2 linked regions of the Homo sapiens genome follow. The protein of the gene in region 1 purifies or fractionates together with the protein of each later gene. This does not show direct contact. Each region holds a gene or a part of one and is shown on either strand. Other genes may lie near its edges.

What was found.
Region 2: the proteins of MAEL (region 1) and ILKAP purify together in Homo sapiens (affinity purification with western blotting, with the first as the bait; one study listed by BioGRID). This does not show direct contact.

Annotation. Positions count from the first base shown.
Region 1 is NC_000001.11:166,998,977-167,002,803, reverse strand, and holds part of MAEL (protein maelstrom homolog), read right to left. Parts: intron 1-3,827. UniProt on the Homo sapiens protein: Plays a central role during spermatogenesis by repressing transposable elements and preventing their mobilization, which is essential for the germline integrity.
Region 2 is NC_000002.12:238,197,088-238,200,914, reverse strand, and holds part of ILKAP (integrin-linked kinase-associated serine/threonine phosphatase 2C), read left to right. Parts: intron 1-3,827. UniProt on the Homo sapiens protein: Protein phosphatase that may play a role in regulation of cell cycle progression via dephosphorylation of its substrates whose appropriate phosphorylation states might be crucial for cell proliferation.

The sequences.
Region 1 (3,827 bases):
CATAAAAATTTATAATTAAAAAAATATTCCATTGTCTTCTGGCTTCCATTGTTTATGCTGTGAAGTCAACTGTAAATTTTACTAATAATCCTTTGGTGATTACCTGTCCATCCTTCCCCCTTTTCTAGTAAAGGCCAACTACAAATTAACTTTTGTGATGTCTGAAACCCAATTTAAAACCACCTCAATCCATGAAAATGCATTAGGGTAATCTGAGATGCTAGTGACTCCAGCTTTCTGACAGACACAATCATAAATCTTCTTTGGAGAGAAATAACAAGATTTCATATACACTGTTTAGCACTCGAAAATAACTAGACATATGAAGAGATTCTGTTAGCTTGACTGAACATCACCATAACCAACAGACTATAAAATCAACTCCAAAAAGAAGATCCCGATAAGAGGATTATCCAACATAACACTTTTAAAATAACTAGGCTTATTATGTTTAGGGAAATTAAAGGCAATATTAGTAATTTCTGTAGAGCCATAAAAAAGAATCAAATTCAAAATCTTAAAATCTATTCCCAAACCCATTTTATAATGGCAAAATAAACTTGATAATAAAATTAGATAATCTGTCTTTAACATAAATGGAAAAGTCCTAAAACAAAATAGTAACAAACCAAACTCGGTATATTATATGTAAAATATATAGTGACCACACTGGGTTTGTTCCTGGAAGACAAGGTTCGTTTAACACTAGTAAAGTACCACATGAGGCCGGCACAGTGGCTCACGCCTGTAATCCCAGCACTTTGGGAGGCTAAGGTGGGCAGACCACTTGAGATCAGGAGTTTGAGATGGGCCTGGCCAACATGGCAAAACCTTGTCTCTAATAAAAATACAAAAATTAGCTGGGCGTGTGACGTGCACCTATAATTCCAGCTACTCAGGAGGCTGAGGCACGAGAATCACTTGAGCCTGGTAGGCAGAGGCTATAGCAAGCTGAGATCATGCCACTGCACTCTAGCCTGGGTGATGGAGTGAGACTCTGTCTCAAAAAGTAAATTAATGGCCACATGAACAAAAGATAAAAATCATATGACATGCAGAAAAAGCATTCATTAAAATGTGCAACTGCTATCTCCCTAGCCAGATAGGGAATATAAACATATCTTGGAGATGCTGTGGGTTCAGTTCCAGACTGCCACACTAAAGCAAGTATTGAAATAAAGTGTCACACAAATATTTTGGTTTCCCAGTGCATATAAATGTTATGTACTCTAAAGTTATGACTATATTAAGTGTGCAGTAGCATTGTTTTAAAAATGAACATACCTTAATATAAAAATATTTTATTGCTAAAAATACGAATGATCACCTGAGTCTTCAGTGACTTAACAATCTTTTTGCTGGCGAAAGATCTTTTTTAAAAAATGTTTTTATTTCCGTAGGTTTTTGGGGAACAGGTGGTATTTGGTCACACGAGTAAGTTCTTTAGTGGTGACTTGTGAGATTTTGGTGGACCCATCACCCGAGTAGTATACACCGAACCCAATTTGTAGTCTTTTATCCCTCACCTCCTTCCCACCCTTCTGCCCCCAAGTCCCCAAAGTCCCTTGTGTCATTCTTATGCCTTTGCATCCTTATAGCTCAGCTCCCATTTATGAGTGAGAACATGTGTTTGGTTTTCCATTCCTGAGTTGCTTCACTTGGAATAACAGTCTCCAATCCCATCCAGGTTGCTGCGAATGCCATCAACTCATTCCTTTTTATGGCTGAGTAGTATTCCATCATATATATACACACATATATATACTACAGTTTCCTTATTCACTTGTTGATTGATGGGCATTTGGGCTGGTTCCACATTTTTGCAATTGCAAATTGTGCTGTTATAAACATGTGTGTGCAAGTTATCCTTTTCGTATGACTTCTTTTCCTCTGGGTAGATATCCAGTAGTGGGATTGTTAGAATTTTCAAATGGTAGTTCTACTTTTAGTTCATTAAGGAATTTCCACATATTTTTTCCCATAGTGGTTGTACTAGTTTACATTCCCATGCTGGTGGAAGATCCTGTCTTGATGTTACTGGCTGCTGACTATCAGGGTCATGGTTGCTGAAGCCTGCAGTTGCTGTGGCAATTTCTTAAAATCAAACAATGAAGTTTGACACACTGACTGACTCTTCCTCTCATGAAGAATTTCTCTGTAGCATGTGATACTGTTTGATAACATTTTACTCACAGAACTTCTTTTGAAATTTAAGTCAATCCTTTCAAACCCTGCTGCTACTTTACCAAGTTTATGAAATATTCTTAGTCCTTTGTCATTTCACCAGTGTTCACAGCATCTTCACTAGGAGTAGGTTCCATCTCAAGCAACTAGTTTATTTTCTCACCCATAAGAAGCAACTCCTTACCCATTCAAGTTTTATTGTGAGACTGCAGCACATTTTCAGGTTCCATTTCTAATTCTAGTTCTCTTCTATTACTTCTTCCACTGAAGTCTTGAACTGCTCAAAGTCATTCATGAGAGCTGGAATCTAATCCTTGCAAACAACCTTTAATGTTGATATTCTGACCTCCTCCAATGAATTATGTATGTTCTTAATGGCATCTAGAATGGTGAATCCTTTTCAGGTTTTCCATTTACTTTGCTTAGATTCATAAGAAGAATCACCATTTATGACAGCTATAGCCTTATAAAACATATTTCTTAAATAATAAGACTTGAAAGTTGAAATTACTCCTTGATCCATGGGCTACAGAATGAATATTGTGGTAGCAGGCATGAAAACATTAATCTCTTTACATCTCCACCAGAGCTCTTGGATGACTAGGTCTAATGTCAATGAGCAGTAAAATTTTGAAAGGAATCTTTTTTTTTTTCTGAGCAGCAGATTTCAACAGTGTTCTTAAAATATTCAGTAAACCATGCAATAAGCAGATGTGCTGTCTTCTAGGCTTTGTTGTTCCATTTTTACTAGCACAAGCAGAGTCAATTTAGCATAATTTCCTAAGAGCTCTAAGATTTTCAGAATGGGTAAATGAGCCCTGGCTTCAACTTAAAGTCACCAGCTGCATTAGTCACTAACAAGAGAATCAGTCTGTCCTGTGAAGCCAGGCACTGACTTATCCTCTCTAGCTATGAAACTCCCAGATGGTGTCTTCTTCCAACAGAAGGTGGTTTCATTTTCGTTGAAAATCTGCCATTTGCTGTAGCCACCTTGATCAGTTATCTTTGCTAGATCCTCTGAATGACTTGCTGCAGCGTCTACGTCAGCACTTGCTCCTTCACTTTGCACTTTTATGTTATAGAGATGGCTTCTTTCCTTAAACCTCATGAACCAAACTCTGCAAACTTCAGACTTTTATTCTGCAGCTTCCTCACCTCTCTCGGCTTTCACAGAATTGAAGAGAGTTAAGGCTTTGTTTTGTATTAGGCTTCAGCTTAAGGGAATGTGGTAACTGGAGAATGTTGATCTATTCTGACCACTAAAACTTTCTTCATATCAGCAATGGGGCTGTTTCACTTTCTTATCATTGGTTGTTCACTGGAGTAGTACATAAATTTCCTTCAAGAACATTCCCTTTGCATTCACAACTTGGTCATTTGGCACAAGAAGCCTAGTTTTTGGCCTACTGCAGCTTTTGATATGCATTCCTCACTAAGCTGAATCATTTCTAGCTTTTGATTTAAAGTGAGAGACATGCAACCCTTCCTTTCACTTGAACACTGAGAGGCCATTGTAGGGTTATTAATTGACCTAATTTCAATATTGTTGTGTCTTAGGGAATAGTGAGGCCCAAGGAAAGGGAAAGAGATGAGGCAATGGCCAGTCAGGGGAGCAGTCAGAACACATACAACATTTATTAATT
Region 2 (3,827 bases), on another chromosome or scaffold:
TACTGTACAAATTAGTACAGTATGTATGGTGCTGCACATAGTGTGGGGTAGAATGTATAGTGTTTTATAGATGTTAGCCAGGGTTATTATTTTTGAGACAGCCTCATTGTGTCGCCCAGGCTGGAGTGCAGTGACATAAACACAGCTCACTGCAGTCTCGACCTCCGTGGGCACAGGTGATTCTTCCACCTCAGCCTCCTTGGTAGCTGGGACTACAGGTGCGCACCACCACAGCCAGCTAATTTTTGTATGTTTTGTAGAGACAAGGCTTTGCCATGTTGCCCAGGCTGCTCTCGAACTCCTGGGGCTCAAGTGTTCTGCCCACCTTGGCCCTCCCAGAGTGCTGGGATTACAGTGGTAAGCCACTGTGCCTGGCTGAGCCATTAACAGTTGTTTAAAAGTGGAAAAACGCAGTCTTAAATGAATTATGGGAAAGCACTGAGTGTCCAAAGGGAGAATACTACACTGCTTATATCACATCAAATGTATTAATATTTTGTTTAGATCTTTTTATTTTTGTTTTAAACGTTGCATCTAATGTTCCCACCCCTAAACCTCTTAAATGTTTATAATCTAGAAAAATACATAGAATGCACTAAATATTTCAGGTATTTTGCTAAATTAGTAGTTTTCATCCAAGCCCTTAAAAGTTTTAATTGCTGAATGAATCAAGTTTTTTAAAGGAGAGATGTATATATTTTACCTAAAAAAAAGTGTTTGTTCATATCAGGCAGAAATGGAACTTTCCTATGTCATACCCATAAAAGTGCCGACCTGATGTCTTTAAGATTGGCAGCTTATATTGACAATCCATGTATGTCAGTTGAAGGTGTCATGGTTTAAAATTGCTTCGCCAGTAACTTGATTTCACTTTTATAGGGTGGTTCTTTTACTTATTTGGTTGCTACACTAGTACTTTAAAAATTGATGGTCAGTTGTTGAGGAGGAAATAAAATATTTGATGGCCACACCATCTTAAAAATACTTTAAAAAAATTGGAGGCTGGGCTCGATGGCGCATACTTGTAATCCCAGCGCTTTGGGGGAACAAGGCAGGAGGATGGCTTGAGGCCAGGAATTTGAGAAGAGCCTGGCACAACTTCGTGAGACCCCTGTCTCTACGATTAAAAAAAAAAAAGAAGAATATTTGAACATAAAGGTTAAGGTATTAGAGGAAAACAGATTGTAAAACTACAGGGTTGAACAAGAAAAAAGTCATAAAAAAGTGAATTTGACTATGTAAAAATTTAAAATTTCTGCAGGACAAATGATACTATAAAGGCAAAAGACAAACCGAGAAAATAATTGCAATATACATTACTAAGGGTATAAGAAAGGCTCACAGAATTGATGGGAAAAAATAAAACCCACTAGAAAAATGGTCAAAGGATGTATCCTCCCAGTTCAGAGGTAAGGAATACAAATGGCCCATCAACAGAAAGTTGCTGAGGAACTATTTACCTTTTCACCCATCAGATTAGCAACAGTTGGTAACATTGGTGAATGTGTAGCGAAGTAGACTTTCTCATAAAGTGTTTTGGGAGTGAAAATTACAACTTTTTGGGGAACAGATTTTGGCTTCTATCAGATTTAAACTAATATCCTTTGACGAGCAGTCTAGCAGATTAAGCAGGAATACATGTATCAGATTGTTGATTGTGGCGTCACTTATCATATGAAGAACTGGGAAAAGCTTGAACCCATCAGTAAGGATCTGGTCGAATGAGTGGAGATGCTTCCCATGTGTGGCTGTTGGAGAGGATGAATTAGACTTGGGTGTGTTGGCCTGGAGCATGCCTTGATGGGTTATGTGAACACTATATGTGGAGTATTGTGTAGAGTATGACTCTGTCTTCTACAAATTAAAATGCATGAGTCCATGTGCATGAGCATTAAGGAAAGTGGAAAGGATACACTAAACTCATACTGTGGTTGGGGGGTGTGGCGGAACCTGTCCCCCCTTTTTTCTGATAATACCTCTGTGGTGTTTGGAAAACACCTGGATTTATTTTATAGTTGAAAAAATTGAGGTATAAAAAACAATTTAGCCAAAATATTTTAACATCCTTTTTTAACTTTATTGGATACAGCAACCTTTAACCTGAATATGATCAACCCAAGGGTATTTTTCTCAGCATAGTATATAACTTCCAGTAGACTTAGCTCCAGAATGTAGATAACTGAGGAAAAAAAAAAGTTCTAGATGAGATTAACTATGATTAATGGACATTTTTAGTCTTGTATTCTTATTAGGGTTCTAATATTTTTAAGATTAGGGGAGGGGCCTCTTCCAGATTTTTAGGTCAGGGTCACACTTTGTCCAATGATTGCAGCCCCCAATGCTTTGAATTTCAGTTTATTCAAAATAGAATGTAAGGGCCTGGAGCAGTGGGTCACATCTGTAATCCCAGCACTTTGGGATGCTGAGGCAGGAAGATTGCTTGAGTACAGTAGTTCGTGACCAACCTGGGCAACATAGTGAGACCCCGTCTCTACAAAAAGTTAAAAAATTAGCTGGGCATGGTGGTGTATGCCTGTAGTTTCAGCTACTCGGGAATCTGACGAGGGAGGATTGCTTGAGCCCAGAAGGTTGGGGCTGCAGTGAGCTGTGATCACACCACTGCACTCCAACCTGGCTCACAGAGCGAGACTCTTGTCTCAATTTAAAAAAAAAAAAATCTAAGGTTTTGACTAATCAGTAGTTTCCTTATGTATCTATGACCTATAGATTTTTTTTTAAAGAATCCACATACAGACTTCTAAGTTAGATTCTTTTGATGATGCAAAAATTATTTCCAGAGATTTTATAAAATCTCAGGATTATCATCATAGGATTGTTGTAAGGGTAAAATGAGTTGATGTTTATGAAGTTTCTGGAAGGGTGCCCATGTATGGAGGCAGCATAGTACCTCACTAAAAGCACGGACTGCATGGCTTTGAATCCCCACTCCACTCCTTACTGGCTCTGTGATCTTGAACAGGTAATTGACCTCAGTGCCTCAGTTTTTTCATCGGTAAATAATAATAGTACCTATCTCATAAGAATTAAATGAGAAGATGTGTGGAGCTCTTAGAATAGTGCCTGACAGGCAGGCAGTATTATCATTTTTAGAAGCCATTCCCAGTTGTGGCCAGCAAAATGTAGGATGGTCTCATTGTGTTTAATTGAAATACCTCTCATAGTATTCCAGAGTGAGAAAGAAGGTGATAGGCAGTTCTCTGGGGATGGGGCTCAGTTTGGGGCACCATCTGACTGAATTGTAGCCAGAGGAGAGGCGGCCAGGCTAGTATTAATACTAAGCTGTAAGTTGCATTGTGAGGAATGCTTACAAGAACTGAAAATATATTTATTACCTGGGTAAAAGAAGACTTCCTCCCTTGTACAGTGGCAGTGGAAAGACCTGATTTAGATGGGCAAGTTAATTCAAAAGTTAAAATATGACCTGGTACAAGCGGAAGGGTTGTTTGCTCTTCATGTTGGGCTGTTACCTGTAAATGTCCCCTCCCTTGTCCTAAGACATCTGGCTCTGTGACACCACTGAATGCAGCGTGATTGTCTGGAACATCTCATGTGGTTTTTGAGTCTGTCCGGAGAACGGGCGTTGTGATTGTTAGACCCAATGTTTGGGCAAAAGTGACCTACTTCGGGATATTAGGAATTCTTGTAAGTGGATTAATACATTGAGTAATGGTTATCCTAAATACTTTTTTTGGGTGCTGGGGACAGAGTCTGGTTTTGTCCCCCAGGCTGGAGTGCAGTGGCGCTATCTCAGCTCACCGCAACCTCCGCCTCCCAGGTTCAAGCAGTTTTCCTGCTTCAGCCTCCCA